3 separate regions of the Homo sapiens genome follow, and regions 2 and 3 are each linked to region 1. The links come from fine-mapping of genetic effects on gene expression. A gene starts in region 1. Each other region holds a variant in brackets. All regions are shown on one strand. Distances are between the middles of the regions. Region 1 holds the start of CLEC10A (C-type lectin domain containing 10A). Region 2 overlaps ASGR2 (asialoglycoprotein receptor 2). Region 3 holds the start of ASGR2 (asialoglycoprotein receptor 2).

What was found. PIP is the estimated chance that this variant, and not a neighbour inherited with it, causes the effect.
Region 2: its variant is fine-mapped to the expression of CLEC10A in whole blood (TOPMed, PIP above 0.99). The same link has a PIP of 0.9 or more in blood mononuclear cells.
Region 3: its variant is fine-mapped to the expression of CLEC10A in whole blood (TOPMed, PIP above 0.99).

The regions. Positions count from the first base shown.
Region 1 is chr17:7,077,262-7,082,487 of GRCh38, forward strand. It overlaps CLEC10A (C-type lectin domain containing 10A), which reads right to left and starts at 2,990. Exons shown (of 9, transcript NM_001330070.2): 1 at 2,791-2,990; 2 at 1,485-1,624; 3 at 736-852. The coding sequence starts at 1,551.
Region 2 is chr17:7,097,616-7,102,841 of GRCh38, forward strand. It overlaps ASGR2 (asialoglycoprotein receptor 2), which reads right to left. Exons shown (of 9, transcript NM_001201352.2): 8 at 4,475-4,581; 9 at 3,711-4,125. The coding sequence ends at 3,960. Among named protein-coding and RNA genes, the nearest start is that of ASGR2, 15 kb to the right of the region's middle. The variant T/G (reference allele first, on the strand shown) is at 2,714.
Region 3 is chr17:7,112,212-7,117,437 of GRCh38, forward strand. It overlaps ASGR2 (asialoglycoprotein receptor 2), which reads right to left and starts at 2,611. Exons shown (of 9, transcript NM_001201352.2): 1 at 2,404-2,611; 2 at 1,906-2,099. The coding sequence starts at 2,029. RefSeq lists enhancers at 457-957, 2,763-3,549. The variant G/T (reference allele first, on the strand shown) is at 2,914.

The sequences.
Region 1 (5,226 bases):
TCAATCACTCCATCAGTGCCCCCCCACCATTCCCATCAATCACTCCATCAGTGCCCCCATCACCATTCCCATCAATCACTCCATCAGTGCTCCGACCACTGTTCTCATCAATCACTCCATCAGTGCCCCCCACTATTCCCATCAGTCACCCCATCAGTGCTCCCATCACCATTCCCATCGATCACTGCATCAGTGCCCCCCACCATTCCCAACAATCACTCCATCAGTGACCCCCACCACCATTCCCATCAATCACCCCATCAGTGACCCCCCACCGTTCCTATCAATCACTCCATCAGTGCCCCCCCACCATTCCCATCAATGACTCCATCAGTGACCCCCAACCATTCCCATCAATCACTCCATCAATGCCCCCCACCATTCCCATAAATCACTCCGTCTGTGCCCCCACCACCGTCCCCATCAATCACTCCATCAGTGCCCCCCTACCGTTACCATCAATCACTCCATCAGTGCCCTCTCCTCCATTCCCATCAATCACTCCATCAGTGCCCCATCAGTGCTTCAGTGGCTCTGTTGTGACCCCCATGACTGTTGGTAGCACTGCCCTCACCATGCCCCATTGTTATCTCCACAGCTGCCCCCAACACTGTGCCCTGCATTGCTCCTACTGTGGACCTCACCATCGCCCCACCACTGCCCTACTGTAGCACCCCATTATTTATCTTCTACCCCATTATTTCTCTCTTCCCTGTCCACCCCTGTGACCCTCACTTTGGAATCCAACCACACAGATGATGACCAGCAGCAGGAGGCCGAGGCCCAGGGACAGCAGGAGATGGCAGGGCCCAGAGCAGAGACGCTGCAGGAGGGACTGGAGAGGAAGTGGCCCTGCAAGAGGAGAGAGTGTCAGGATGAGGAGGGTCCAGACACCGGAGACGGGAGAAGGAGAGGGCCCAGGGAGCTGTCTAGTGAGGAGGGCTGGGCACAGGGGACTCCAGGGGAGGGTTGGACAAGGAGGATTTTGGGGTGGGGGATGCCCAGGCCTTTGACTTCAGGGACCAGCACAAGTCCTCAGTCACACAGGCCCCTCACACCCCTGGGGACCCACGTGATAGCGATATGAGGGGTCCCATGGTCAGAGCTGGGGGCAGGGGCAGGAGGACACAGGGAGAGCTGGGGGCAGCCAGCCCTTCATGGGCTTATGCTCACCTACCTGCTGGACAATCAGGTTCACAAATGAGTTTCCTTCCAAACCCAACTACTTATCTTTCCCTCCACCAATGCGCAGCTCTCATCCCCACCCCACAGAGCATCAGAAGCTGGGTCCACTGTGATCCTCCCTGTCCCAGTCTTTCTAGAGACCTTGCATCCTCTTCACACTAGGCCCGTCAGAGGCTGGGGCCTGACCTCCTCAGAGTTAGGACCCACCAGTGCGCGTGGTGGAGGTACAGAAATGATAGGAGAAATCCTTCTAAACATATAAAGAGGGCATTTTAGGAGAGTTTCCCCTTTCCTCTTACCATTTTTAAACCCCTGGACTTTCACCTTATTCTCCAAGTACTGGAAGTTTTCATACGTCCTTGTCATGCTTGGGCCAACACGGCTCTGAGGTTGTCACAGCTGAAATGGAGGCAGGGCCGGCGCCCAGTCTGGGGTGGAGCTGGGGAATAGGAGGTTGGGACTAAGTTGGAGCCAAGGGCAGGGCTGACGTTGAGTTGGGAGATGAGGCTCAGGTTGAGAATGAGCCCAGGGTTAAGACGGAAATGAGCCTGGGTTTGCAGTCGAGTTAGAATTGGGGTCGAGTTGAGTTTGGGAGTGAAACTGGAGGGTAACGTTGGAGCTAAACGCATTGCTAGGACTACCCAGTGGGCCAGTTAATCAGGCAGGACTGGAGGTTGTATCTCATGCTAGGATTGGGGTCAGTATGCACGTTGGAGCCATGGATGGAATTGGGGTTAACTTTGGTGGTGAATTTGGAAACAGAATAGAGTCGAGGTTCAATTTTGGCTTTGGGCTGGTGTTAAAATTCAAGTTGATTCTGGGGTTGGGGTTGAAGTAGGAGCTGGGTGGGGGGCGACAGGTGCGGTGGCTCACGCCTATAAATCCCAGCACTTTGGGAGACCGAAGCAGACAGATCACTTTAGGTCAGGAGTTTGAGACCGGCCTGGCCAACATGGTGAAACCCCATCTCTACTAAAAATACAAAAATTAGCTGGGTGTGGTGGTGTGCGCCTGTAATCCCAGCTACTTGGGAGGCTGAGGCAGGAGAATCACTTGAACCCAGGAGGCAGAGGTGGCAGTGAGCCGAGGTTGTGCCGTTGCACTCCAGCCTGGACGACACAGTGAGACTCAGTCTCAAAAAAAAAGAAAATGTAGAAGCTGGGGTTAGTATTGGGATTAGGGCATGGCTGGGCTGAGATGAAGATAAGGCTGGAAATGGGCCACCAATGAGGCTGAGTCTGAGTCTTAGTTTATTTTTATTTTTATTTATTTATTTTTTGAGATGGAATTTCGTTCTTGTCGCCCAGGCTGTTGTGCAACGAGGCCGTCTCGGCTCACTGCAACCTCTGCCTCCTGGGTTCACAAGATTCTCCTGCCTCAGCTCCCGGAGTCTTAGTTTATGACAGGGGATTGTGGCTGCCGTAACCCAATCTAGAATCCAGTGAAGGGAACAGAGTCTCAAATCTCCACGTAGTAATTAAACCCCACACTGCCGCCTTATATTTATTTTCATTTAGTCCCACCCAAGACCCAAAGTCCCCCTCTCCCTGCTTCCTCTGACATCCCCTGTCCCCTGGGTCTCACCGGCACCGGCAGCACCATTACCTGTGGGAGGTCTGGAGGGTGTGATTCCCACGTTGGTTGTGCTGCAAGGACCAGAGGTGGGACGTCACTCAGAGTTGGGAGCGCTGTGTCCTGGAGAGCTGGGGTAGAGGTGACTGGAGTCCTGCTGGTCTTGGGTCTGAAATCCCAGGAGCCCTATCATCTGGGACATCCCATCTCCTCAACTTTAGACAGTAAATGAGAATGAACAGGGATTAGAACACACAGAGACCATGTGTGGGTGGGGAGAGTTGGGTTTGAGGCCAGCTCTGTTCTCCTCCTCCAGGCCATGCCTACTTCCTTTCCTCTTCTCGGAGCTTCCTCATTTTTACCATCTGGGAGCAGGGCTGGATCAGAGGTACAATCTGCTGTTGCTCCTCTACCCTACACTTCCTTTCACTTCCTGCCTCTACATTTCCCAGAATTGTTGGGTCTCCATCATCGCACCTCTGATCCTAGAGAAGCCCAGTCTGTTCTCTTGCTCAATCCTGGCCTGAGTCCCTGGCATCAGCATCCTCTGGGTCCCAGTCATTCGGCTGCTCAGCTGTGGCCTCGCTCGCCTCACTCCACTCGGAAGGAGGGAAGGGGGTGCCAGAGAATAGAACTTCTTGGCCCTAATAGGACGGGAGAAGCCAAGGAAAAGAGCAAATTTTATTGAGTAATCTGTGATAGGATTATGCCAGACATTTACCTTCCACAACCATTCCCCCCAAGCACCTGGGGAGGCATTTTGGATGACGGACTAAAGGCTCAGAGCCCAAGATCACTCACAGCTTGTAAGGAGACAGTTTGGCACCCTGCTCTGGCTCTCAGCACAGGCGCTGTCTTCATGAACAGGATTCCATTTCATCCCATGATCCCTGCTCAACCCCTAAGGGAGCTGCCCTGAATCCACGCGCACATCCCTTTCAGTAGGAAGGAAACTGAGTATCTTACAAGGTGGAGAAGGAGAAGAAATACATTTTAGGTTATATTTTGTATGTACATGGGGTTGTGTTCTGCTATGTGCTTTTTTTTTTTTTTTTTGGAGTTAACAAGCTATCAGGAACATTTCTCCACATCAGTTTATAAAATGTACTTGATCTACCTGCACCTCATTTCATCATAGGCACCGTAATTTATTTATTTAGCATTTCTCTATTGACAGAAATAAATCAGAAATTTAAGTTGTTTCTTTTTCTTTTCTTTTTTATTTTATTTATTTATTTATTTTTTTGAGACAGAGTCTCACTCTGTTGCCCAGGCTGGAGTGCAGTGACACAATCTCGGCTACTGCATCTCCTGGGTTTAAGCGATTCTCCTGCCTCAGCCTCCCGAGTAGCCGAGATTACAGGTCCCGCCACCACACCCAGCTAATTCTTGTATTTTTAGTAGAGAGGGGTTTCACCATATTGGCCAGGCTGGTCTTGACCTCCTGACCTCACATGATCTGCCCGCCTCAGCCTCCCAAAGTGCAGGGATTACAGGCGCGAGCCACCGCACCCGGCCAGGTCGTTGCCAGTTTTGTTTTTATTTGGTATTCGGTATTTTGATTAGTATATGTCGCAGGTTCGGTTTTTGGAAGCCAAGGTTGAGGCTGAATTTGGGGTACAAGCTATTTATTAGGGATTAGCACTTCGAAAAGGAAAGTGGATGAAATGGTGCTGGGCAGAGGGAGAAGCCCAGCACTTTGGAGAGCTTCAACCAAACCAACAGGGAGCTCTGGGTTCAAACAATGCCACCCCCGGGAGCTGTCCAGCATTGGACTGCCACAGGGTCCTGTAGAGCACCAGCTCCTTCGGTCACTGGCAGTCAGCCCTGACATGGGTGTGACCTCAGGAAGCAGCTGTCTGCAGGTTACACTCCCCACAGTGGGTCACCACATCCTTCCTAGAAGGGGGACCTGGGTAGCTCTCTGTGTGTCTACCACAGTCTTGCAGTGTATTCACATATTAATTTGGAGATAATCAACATTTTGACATTGTTGAATCTTCCATGAAAAGAACATGATATTTCTCCATTCACTAACTTTTTTTTTTCAGTCTGGTTCAGTGGGTTTGAAGCTTCTTTTTTTTTTTTTAGTTCTGGGATACATGTGCAGAATGTGCAGGTTTGTTACGTAGGTATACGTGTGCCATGGTGGTTTGCTGCACCTATCAACCCATCACCTAGGTTTTAAGGCCCGCATACATTAGGTATTTGTCCTAATGCTCTCCCTCCCCTTGCCGCCCACCCCCTGACAGACCCTGGTGTGTGATGTTCCCCTCCCTGTATCCATGTGTTCTCATTGTTCAGCTCCCGGTTATGAGTGAGAACATGCGGTGTTTGGTGTTCTGTTCCTGTGTTACTTTGCTGAGAATGATGGTTTCCAGCTTCATCTATGTCCCTGCAAAGGACATGAACTCATTCTTTTTTATGGCTGCATAGTATTCCATGGTGTATATGTGCCACAATTTCCTT
Region 2 (5,226 bases), 20 kb after region 1:
CTGGGTGACAGAGCGAGACTTTGTCTCAAAAAAAAAAAAAAAATATATATATATATATATGTGTGTGTGTGTGTGTGTATACACATATATATGTATATGTACACATACAATTTATATATATATGTATATATAGCATTTTCTAGATTCTGTGATGTTTCTGGTAGCTCTCTGCTTTTGAAATTTGTGACTTTTTAAATTTAAATAAATGGTAATTTTTATGCTTAATTTTATATCCATAATTTTGTAATTGTTCTTACAGAGGGCTCCCCAAAATTGTGTACACCTCAGGCCCCATAAAACTTGGAATCACTTCTCTGGCTCTAGGAAAAAGTACACCAAGTACAACTAAAATACTGATTATACGACTGGTTTGCACGTCTGGAAAAATTATATTGTCAAGCTTTTTACAGTTCAGGAAGACTCAGCAATAAGTTAAAAGAATATGAGGCAAATTTTTTTAATGGAATACTGACTACTTTCAGAAGAAATGAGAGTTGTGCAAGAAAGGGAATGTAATCAGATTATAGTAGTTGACTCAGCAGTAACCATATTGACACAGATACAACTGATACAAATTTTAAAGTAGTATTTAAATATAAATTGTAGACTACATTGGAAGATTTTACCTCGTTTACATGATAGCGACTAAATAATGTCTACAACTCATACGAAGATGAAATATCAGTTTGTGTGTCTTACTTAGAACTGCAGATGTCAGTACTAGAAGAAACAGCTAGAATCACTGAAAGCAGTTTCTCCAGGCAGCAAGAGGAGCTAAAGGGGGCAGGTCAAGTAACCTAGAGCCCTGTAAAACTTCTAGTTTTATAGACTTTATACTTCTAGTTTTATAGACTTTATAAAATTTCTACTTTTCTATAAAAATTCTAGTCCTATAAAACTTTAGAGTGTATTATTACTTCCATAATTTATTTTTTGAGAAAAGATCTCGCTGTCTTACCCAGGCTGCAGTGTAGTGACACAGTCACAGCTCACTGCAGCTTCAATTTCCTGGGCTCAAACTATCCCCTCATCTCAGCCTCCCAAGTAGCTGGGACTGCAGGGATGCACCACCACATCCAGCTGGGGTGTGTGTGTGTGTGTGTGCATGTTGTACAGACTGGGTTTCGCCATATTGCCCAGGCTAGTCTCAAACTCCTGAGCTCAGGCGACCCACCACCTCAGCCTCTCAAAATGCTAAGATTATAGGCATGAGCCATTGCACCCAGCCTATTTTCACGGTTTTTTAAATTTAATCCCAATCGTGTACATTTTGAAGGGGCAATCCTAGAAAATTTTTCAACTGAAAAGTGGGAAGTCTTGACCTATCCCAAGCTTATGAGCAAAAAAATTACTTTGAAACATTCTATGTGAAAACAAAGAAACAAAAGTGGTAACTACTTGCCCCCTACAGAGAATGATTACATAATGCATGGTACATCCCTACTTTGGAATTCTCTACAGCTGCTAAATCCAAGGAGGTAAAACCTGCCAGGTAATGGCATAGATTAGACTGGTGTCCACGAGACACTGTGAAGCGGAACAGGCACTATGTAATGACATAATATTGCATCTACTCATGTACACAGGAAGGGCTCTGGCAGGGGACACAGGAAAGAGTTGACTCTGGGGAGACGGAGGAGGACTGAGAGGACACTCGTGTGCGTGCGTGTGTGTGTGTCATTTAAAACATTTTTTTACTAATAGAATGTATTACTTCTGTACTTTAAAAATTTAAAAATATGGGGCCGGGCCCCGTGGCTCATGCCTATAATCCCAGCACTTTGGAAGGCAGAGGCGGGCGGATCACCCGAGGTCAGGAGTTCAAGATCAGCCTGGCCAACATGGCGAAACGCTGTTTCTACTAAAAATACAAAAATTAGCTGGGTGTGGTGGCGCATGCCTGTAATCCCAGCTACTCGGGAGGCTGAGGCAGAAGAATCGCTTGAACCCGGGAGGTGGAGGTTGCAGTGAGCCAAGACCGCACCATTGCACTCCAGCCTGGGCAACACAGCAAGACTCCAACTTAAATAAATAATATAACCGCTGAATAGTCTTTTTAAGGTCAGTTTCAGAATGTTCTTGGAGCGGGAAGTTTGCCCACTGTGGAGATTGTTGGTGACACCCTGTGTTGAAGATATGTCTAGATCCGCTTGGGGTCAAAAAGACAGAGCCACGGTGGTGAGAAAGTGACTTACCCATCCTCCTCCTCGTCGTGACCATTTTCCTTGAAGGCTGAGAGTGGAGCTGGGGTATGCCCTGCGACCCGGTCTGGGGAGAACCCAACCGCAGAGAAAGATGTTTCCTTTGGGAGCCCTGGTGTGTCCGGAATTGGTGGGTTCTTGGTCTCACTGACTTCAAGAATGAAGCCGCGGACCCTCGCGGTGAGTGTTACAGTTCTTAAAGGCGGCGTGTCTGGAGTTTGTTCCTTCTGATGTTCAGATGTCTTCAGAGTTTCTTCCTTCTGGTAGGTTCATGGTCTCACTGGCTCAGGAGTGAAGCTGCGGAACTTCGTGGTGAGTGTTACAGCTCTTAAGGCAGTGTGGACCCAAAGAGTGAGCAGCAGCAAGATTTATTGCAAAGAGCGAAAGAACAAAGCTTCCACAGTGTGGCAGGGGACCCGAGTGGGTTGCCGCTGCTGGCTGGGGCAGCCTGCTTTTATTCTCTTATCTGGCCTGATTGGTGCGTTTACAATCCCTGAGCTAGGCACAAAGGT[T/G]CTCGACTTCCCGACCAGAGTAGCTAGATACAGAGTGTCAATTGGTGCATTCACAAACCCTGAGCTAGACACAGGGTGCTGATTGGTGTGTTTACAAACCTTGAGCTAGATACAGAGTGCCAATTGGTGCATTTACAATCCCTTAGCTAGACATAAAGGTTCTTCAAGTCCCCACCAGACTCAGGAGCCCCGCTGGCTTCACCCCATGGATCCTGCACTGGGGCCGCAGGTGGAGCTGCCTGCCAGTCCCGCGCCCTGCGCCCGCACTCCTCAGCCCTTGGGTGGTCGATGGCACTGAGCGCGCCCTGGAGCAGGGGGCGGCGCTGGTCGGGGAGGCTCGGGCCGCACAGGAGCCCACGGAGCGGGGGTCGGGGAGGCTCAGGCATGGCGGGCTGCGGGTCCCAAGCCCTGCCCCGCGGGAAGGCAGCTAAGGCGTGGCGAGAAATTGAGCACAGCAGCTGCTGGCTCAGGTGCTAAGCCCATCACTGCCCGCGGCCGGTGGGGCAGGCCGGCCACTCCGAGTGCGGGGTCCGCCGAGTCCACGCCCACCCGGAAATCGCGCTGGCCCGCAAGCGCCGCTCCCTCCACACCTCCCTGCAAGCTGAGGGAGCCGGCTCCGGCCTTGGCCAGCCCGGAAAGGGGCTCCCACAGTGCAGCGGCGGGATGAAGGGCTCCTCAAGTGCCGCCAAAGTGGGAGCCCAGGCAGAGGAGGCGCCGAGAGCGAGCGAGGGCTGTGAGGACTGCCAGCACGCTGTCACCTCTCACTGGGAGCCAGGCGGACCCTCCAGCCACAGCCCGGCCGACCCCTTTCCCACCAGTGCCAGCCACTAAGCCTGTCTGCTCCAAGCCCCTTTCCCGTTTCCCTGACCAATGTCCCTCGGGATTAGGGACCAAGGAGCAGCTGTCTAGGATGCGCGCCTTGCGTCTTCCATGCCCTCCCCTCTCCCTCCTCTTTGCATGCTGTTTCTCAGTTCCCAATAACCAGGCCACACAGAGATTCAAGCATTTGTTTCTTCTTTCCTACGCCATTGAAGAGGCTGACGATTATAATAATTACAATGAATTACAGAAGGAGGTGGGATCTCAGTCCTCCAGGGTCAGGGACTCTTAAACTACCTCCTTTCTCTCTTTGCTCAGCTCTTCCCCATACCCCTGTCTCAGTGTTTCTTCCTTTCCTCAAAATCCTCAACAGAGAAGCCAGAGCTGGGCAGGTGTGGGGTATGGGTTAGCCAGAGGTGTGCTGGGGTCAGGCCACCTCGCCGGTGGCATTCCGCCTTTTCTCACACACCCAGCGGTACACCTGCAGGCAGAAGTCATCGTTCCAGCGGCCATCCGGCTGGACTTCAACACAGTCTTCACTTCCACCCAGCTCGTGCCCGTGCCAATTATCTGGCTGAGTGACAGCCCAGTTCCTAAGGAGGCAAGAGAAAACTCGGACTCTGCCACGGTGGTGAGAAAGCGACTTACCCATCCTCCTCCTCTTCATGACCATTTTCCTTGAAGGCCGAGAGTGGAGCTGGGGTGTGCCCTGCTACCCAGTCTGGGGAGAACCCAACCGCAGAGAAAGATGTTTCCTATGCCCAGTCCCAGCAACCCTCACCCCCAGCCCAGAAGAGCACAGCTTTGGAGGGGTTGGAGTCTGGGGAGGAGAGGATTGGGGAATTTGGTCCCTGAGGGACGAGTCAGGGTAGCTTGGAGTGAAAGGCCAGGGGGCTGTCCCCAGAGAAATCTAACAAGGAGATGAGGGAAGAGGCCACTTACTTGTAGTTGTGCCTATAGTCTGTGCCATCCACCCATTTCCAAGAGCCATCACTGTCCGTGAGACCTATCCAGGTATTGAAGGGGTTCGTGTGTTGTACAATGAATTTCTGGAAACACAGGCAAACAGGAAATTTCTAGTCTCTTGTGCCTTTCTCCTCCCTCCATGCAGGCATGGAACTGTGGCCCCTCTCAGCCTTCCCCAGCCTGATCTGCCCTCAGGCTGAAGCACCAGCTCCCGACAAGACTGCTTCCTAGCTTTTTCTTCCGTCACTCTAGCTACTGTTCAGTGCACATTTGCTAGGCTAGACTTCGTGCTGTCTGTGCAAAGATGATCTCATTTAATCCTCAGAAGCTCTCTAAGATGGGCACTGCAGTGACCACATTTTGCAGGGAGTTGCAGAGCCAGAGAGCCAATCCTGTACCTGAGTTAGTGGCCACTGTCCCCTGTTCACAGCCCTGGGCCGGTGTCCCCCTTCATTCCCAGCTTATGGCTCTACCCAAGTTCCGGTTCTCTCCCTGTCTTCTGCCCACAGCCTCGAACTCCTGGGATCCCGACCCTGGTCCCTGCTCTTACTGCCCCCCAGACCCCAGACCCACTGAAGATCTCAGTTTCACTGGCCTCTCAAGTACATTGGCCCCTGGTAGCTCTCGCTTCTATGTGTAGCTGTCATTTCCTGAGATCTGTCAGGCCCGGGAGCTTCTAAGCTTGGACCCACTGCCCAGGGCCCCATTATGATCTAGCTACGTGGAGT
Region 3 (5,226 bases), 35 kb after region 1:
GCATAATTGAAATCTTTAAAAGAAAAAGGGGGTAGCAGAAAAAAATCAAGTGCTGAGACAAGTGGAAGATGGGCCCCGGTGAGCAGCTGATCAGTGTCAGCTCCCATGATGACGTTCCCCCAGCCCCCACCACCCGGGCTGCTGGAGGGAAATGCGGTGACTTTGCTACATCCCTTCAGACGGTCCCTCACTGGTGTCCCTCAGCCCATTCGCGTGAGCTCACTCTCCCATTAATTTCAGAAATCCTGGCCTCTCTCCAAGCCTCCTGCTCAAACTCTAAATTCTGTCACCCTCAGAAGATTCAGCAGCATCCCGTATTCTCTCTGAGTGTTCACTATGTACCGGGTGCCGTGTGGGCACTGGAGTTGCAGAGGAGAGTGAGGCGGACAGGGCCTCTGCCTGTGGGGACACCGCCTGGTGGGAAGTCCAGCCAGCCCCCTACAGAGAGAGGAGATGCTACTGGTGTTCCTGAGTGGTCCTCGGGAGGGACCTCCTATCCCTCCTGTCCCCTGCCCTGCCCTGCCCAGCACCGGCCCTCCCTCGGTTGGCCAGCCTCAGGAATGAGGAGTCCCTCATTCCAGCCCAGCTAACCAATCCCCTTCCTAAGCTCCAAGCCCCTGCTCCTCCTGCCTCCATGGAACCCGGCTCCACCACCAGCACCCACACACCTGACACTCCTCCATTCCTGGCTCTTGCCCTTCTGCCTAGCACTGCTCAGATCTCTCTCACCTTAAAATCTTTTCCCACCAGCCTGGGCAACATAGCAAGACCCCATTTCTCTAAAAAATTTTTTTTAATTTGCCAGGCACAGTGGTGCACACCTGTAAGTCCTAACTACTTGGGAGGCTGAGGTGGGAGGATGGCTTGAGCCCAGGAGTTCGAGGTTGCAGTGAGCTATGATCCTGCCACTACACTCCTGTCTCTAAAAAAAAAATGTCCAAGATACTTAGGTCCTTCAGTCAAGATTTATTACAGAAGGATCCAGGGAAGGGTCTTGGGAGATGAGAGGAGCAGGGATCTTCCAGGATCTCTCTGTGCTCACGTCCCCCACCCATCCCAACTCACCCCACCTCTACACACACACACACACACACATACAATCACATACACACACTAACACACACACTCACGCAACACACTCACACACACAACATACATAACACACTCACAACATACACACACAACACACACACTCGCACAACATACACACACGCACAACATACACAACACTCACACAACACACAAACATACATACACTCACACAATACACACACACAACACACACACAACATACACAACGTACACACACACAACATACACACACTCATACACAACATACATACACACAACATACACACAACATACACACACTCACATACACAACATACACTCGCACAACATACACACATGCACAAGATACACACACAACACACAACATACACTCACACACAAGATACACACAACATATACTCACACAACATACACACACAACACACTCTCACACACAACATACCCTCTCACATACACGACATACACACACACAACATATGCACGCTCTCGCGCACATATACACACACACAACATTCACTCACACACACACACAGAGTCCCAGCTGAATCTGCATTCCTCATATGCACATACGTGCACACGCACATACGAGGCACATGTGTTCTTGGGTTGGGAGGAGAAGGGCAGGCAGTTATCTTCCAGATCTCCCCACACCTCTGGCACATGCCTTTCCTGGGGTCCTGGGGTAGACAGGAAGGTGAGGTGAGGGAACAAGCGGGGGTGTCGGGCCCTCCTCAGTCCCTGTTCACAGAGTGGGTGCGGCAGAGACCTCAAAGGGACAGAGCAATCATGAGCTGAGACAGAGGGGGAGCAAAGCCGCAGAAACTGCACACTTGCCTTTCAAAAATGGATTTCCTCTCCTGGGATTCAGCCTGCGAGTGCCTGGCCCCTCACCTTGATGGAAAGGATGGTCATTTTCCTCCGAGCTCAGCTGCTGGATATCTTGAAAGTCCTTGGCCATGATGGGGCCCGGGCTGGAGCTGGAGCTGGAGCTGGGCTGGGCTGGGCTGAGGTTGCTCTGAGGGCTGGGGCTGGGGCAGAGGTGCAGATTCACGTGGAGGTTGATGGTGGGATGGAACGCAGGGTCGGAGGGGTTCGGGGTGGTGGCCTGGGTAGGATCTGAGGTTGGCAGGGCGTTTGGGATGAGGTTTGAAATCCCGCTGGGTCCTTTCCCTTCTCAGGAGACCGCTTGGGCCTTGACCTGGCCAGGAGACCCCTCCCCACGCTCATGGACCCGACCACCCACAGCTTCCCATGGGGTCCTCCCCATCCCTGAACCAAGGCCTCCTTGTTCCCAAGCATCCTCGTCCCAGTTGCCTCCCCAGCCTCAGTTACCTGTGAAAGGTGTGGAGAGCGGACACCTGGCTCCCGCAGGCAACCCTGGCCTTGGCCAAGGAGGGGTTAAAGCCAGGAGAACTGGGGCAGGTGGAGCTCACAGGGGAGAGGAGAGTGGAGGAGGGGCTGGTCCGGGCAAGGCCTGCACTGGAGGGTCTGAGTGTCCAAGCTCTAACCTGGCACCTCCTGGCCTGGGACTTTGGACAGTAAACAGAAGAGGAAACAGAGCTGTAACTCATTTGTGGGGTGGGGGCAGGGGACGGGGCTATCTCTGTTCTTATTCCCAGAGAGGGGGGTCCCCTGGGCTGCGCTCAACTCCACACGCCACTCACCCCACTCATTGCACCATTTGGAAGGGGTGCCAGGCCAGGAGGGGCTGGGGTGCAGTTTGCCGTTTCCCTCTCTCCCTCCCCCTCTCACTTCCTGCCTCCGAATTTACCAGAACTGTGGGTGTCTCCAAATATCCCTGACCAGGATCACAGCGACCAGTTCTCTACTCTTGCCCAATCC[G/T]GCATCTGAACCACAGACCCCAGCTTCCTGTGGGCTCGGCCACCAGACTCTCAGCTCTGGCCCAACTCGCTTCACTCTCCTGGAGAGTAAAGCCTCTCAAATCCAGAAGCTTCAGCAGGAGGAGGAAGGGGCTTTGCAGAAAAACAGCTCTCCTCGCAGGAGGAATCCAACCTCAGAGAGCCCCGTCCGGCCCAGACCCTGCCCCAGCCCAGGCAACACAAACACTGTCCTCAGGCCCAGCCACTGCCCTAAATTCTCCAAGGTGTTTCTTCATTTATCACAGCACAACACCCCCACGAGGCAGGACTTCTGTTACTCCCATTTCACAGGGTTCGGAAGCGGAGCCTCGGAGAGATGAGGCAACTTGCTCTAGGTGGTGGCCCAGGTGAGTAGAGAAACTGGCAAAGCAAAATGGAGTAAAGAGGGGAAAATAACATCATAACAAAAGGTCTGGCCGGGCACGGTGGCTCACGCCTGTAATCCCAGCATTTTGGGAAGCCGACGTGGGTGGATCACCTGAGGTCAGGAGTTCGAGACCAGCCTGGCCAACATGGTGAAACTCTGTCTCTACTAAAATACAAAAATTAGCCGGGCGTGGTGGCAGGGGCCTGTAATCCCAGCTACTCAGGACGCTGAGGCAGGAGAATCGATTGAACCTGGGAGGCGGAGGTTGCATTAGCCAAGATTGCGCCATTGCACTCCAGCCTGGGCAACAAGAGAGAAACTCCATCTCAAAGAAAAAAAAAAGAAAGAAAGAAAAAGAAAAGAAAAGGTCTTCATGGTCCTACGAGGAAGACTGGCTTCCATGAAGCAAGGAACGTGGCTGACTGTCTACACTTGCGCTAACAATAGCTCGGGAAAGAAAACACAGTTTTTGTGCATGATTTTCTGACCCTCACCAAACTTGGGCGGATGGCTACGGGCAGGGTTTCTTATAAAGCTGCTCGTTTCCCCGGGTGCCGAAAAGGAATTCAAACAGAGGCCTTTTCTGTTCTTGTAACTTGCTGACCCACATGGGAAGTAGCCACCCCCCCAGTACCCTGACATTCCCACCCAGCCACCAGGCAGCAGCAGCCGCTGGGCTCTCTGACTGCAGCCCACAGCGAGAGACGAATTTCATGCTGTGATCCAGAACATACACACAAGCACCCGCACACACAGGTGCATTTGTATGTGTTACTTTCTCCTGGATCCCCAGTGCCTGCCACACAGTAGCTGCTCAACAAGTATCTACTGAGTGAGTGAGTGAATAGAATAATGCGTTTGGAAATACACGGTTGACACTAAAGTTTGATGGGACAATGCTCACCTTACTACGTGCCTTCTGTTGAGTTTCCCAGTCCATTAATGGGTCACAACTCAAAGTCTGAACAACACTGCTGTGAAGCCCCCATCTTAAGGGGCATGTGGATTTAGTCCTGAGATACAGGTAAGAGCTTCACAGATGGATTGTCTACTGCATGTCAAGCTTTGCCAACTGCCAACCAGGGATGGGGCCATCCTCATTGGCCACCCCTTTGACTGAACCAATTCCACGTTTCAGGGCTTGTCACTTACACCCCCACTCACGGCACTACAGGGAGAGAAGGGACAGAGAAAGCCAGACTCATCTGCGTCCTTCTCTTTCTCCCTATTTGAAAATCATTTTAACTTAGAAGTTAACATGTACTTGGACTATTTCTGAAGTTTCCATATTGTTGGAGGTTTTCTGTTTTGGGTTATGGAATCCTATTTTCTTTGATTGATTTTTTTTTTTTTTTTTTTTGAGACAGAGTTTCACTCTTGTCACCCAGGCTGGAATGCAATGGCGCGATCTCAGCTCACTGCAACCTCCACCTCCCGGGTTCAAGTGATTCTCCTGCCTCAGCCTCCTGAGTAGCTGGGATTACAGGCATGCACCACCACGCCCGGCTAATTATTTGTATTTTCACCATGTTGGCCAGGCTGGTCTTGAACTCCTGACCTCAGGTGATCCGCCCATCTCAAACTCCCAAAGTGCTGGGATTATAGGCGTGAGCCATCGCGCCCGGCCTTATTTGGTTGATTTTGATTTGGGGTTTATTTGTACCTCAGACACAAAGGTTAGATTGGTCATATTCCTTACTTCATGACACTAGGTCTTCCTCAGAGGTCTGAGCTAAACCTTTGTCCTGTTTCGTTCTTCCCTAGCTCCCATCCTGTTTCCCCTCACTAATTCTATACTCTCTACTCTCTATAGGCAGCCAGAAGTCTGAGTGCCCTGACAGTCCCCACAGATGGTGCCCATCAATTTCTCCCCTCACCACATGTGCAAGTCACACCACTCAGCCAGGG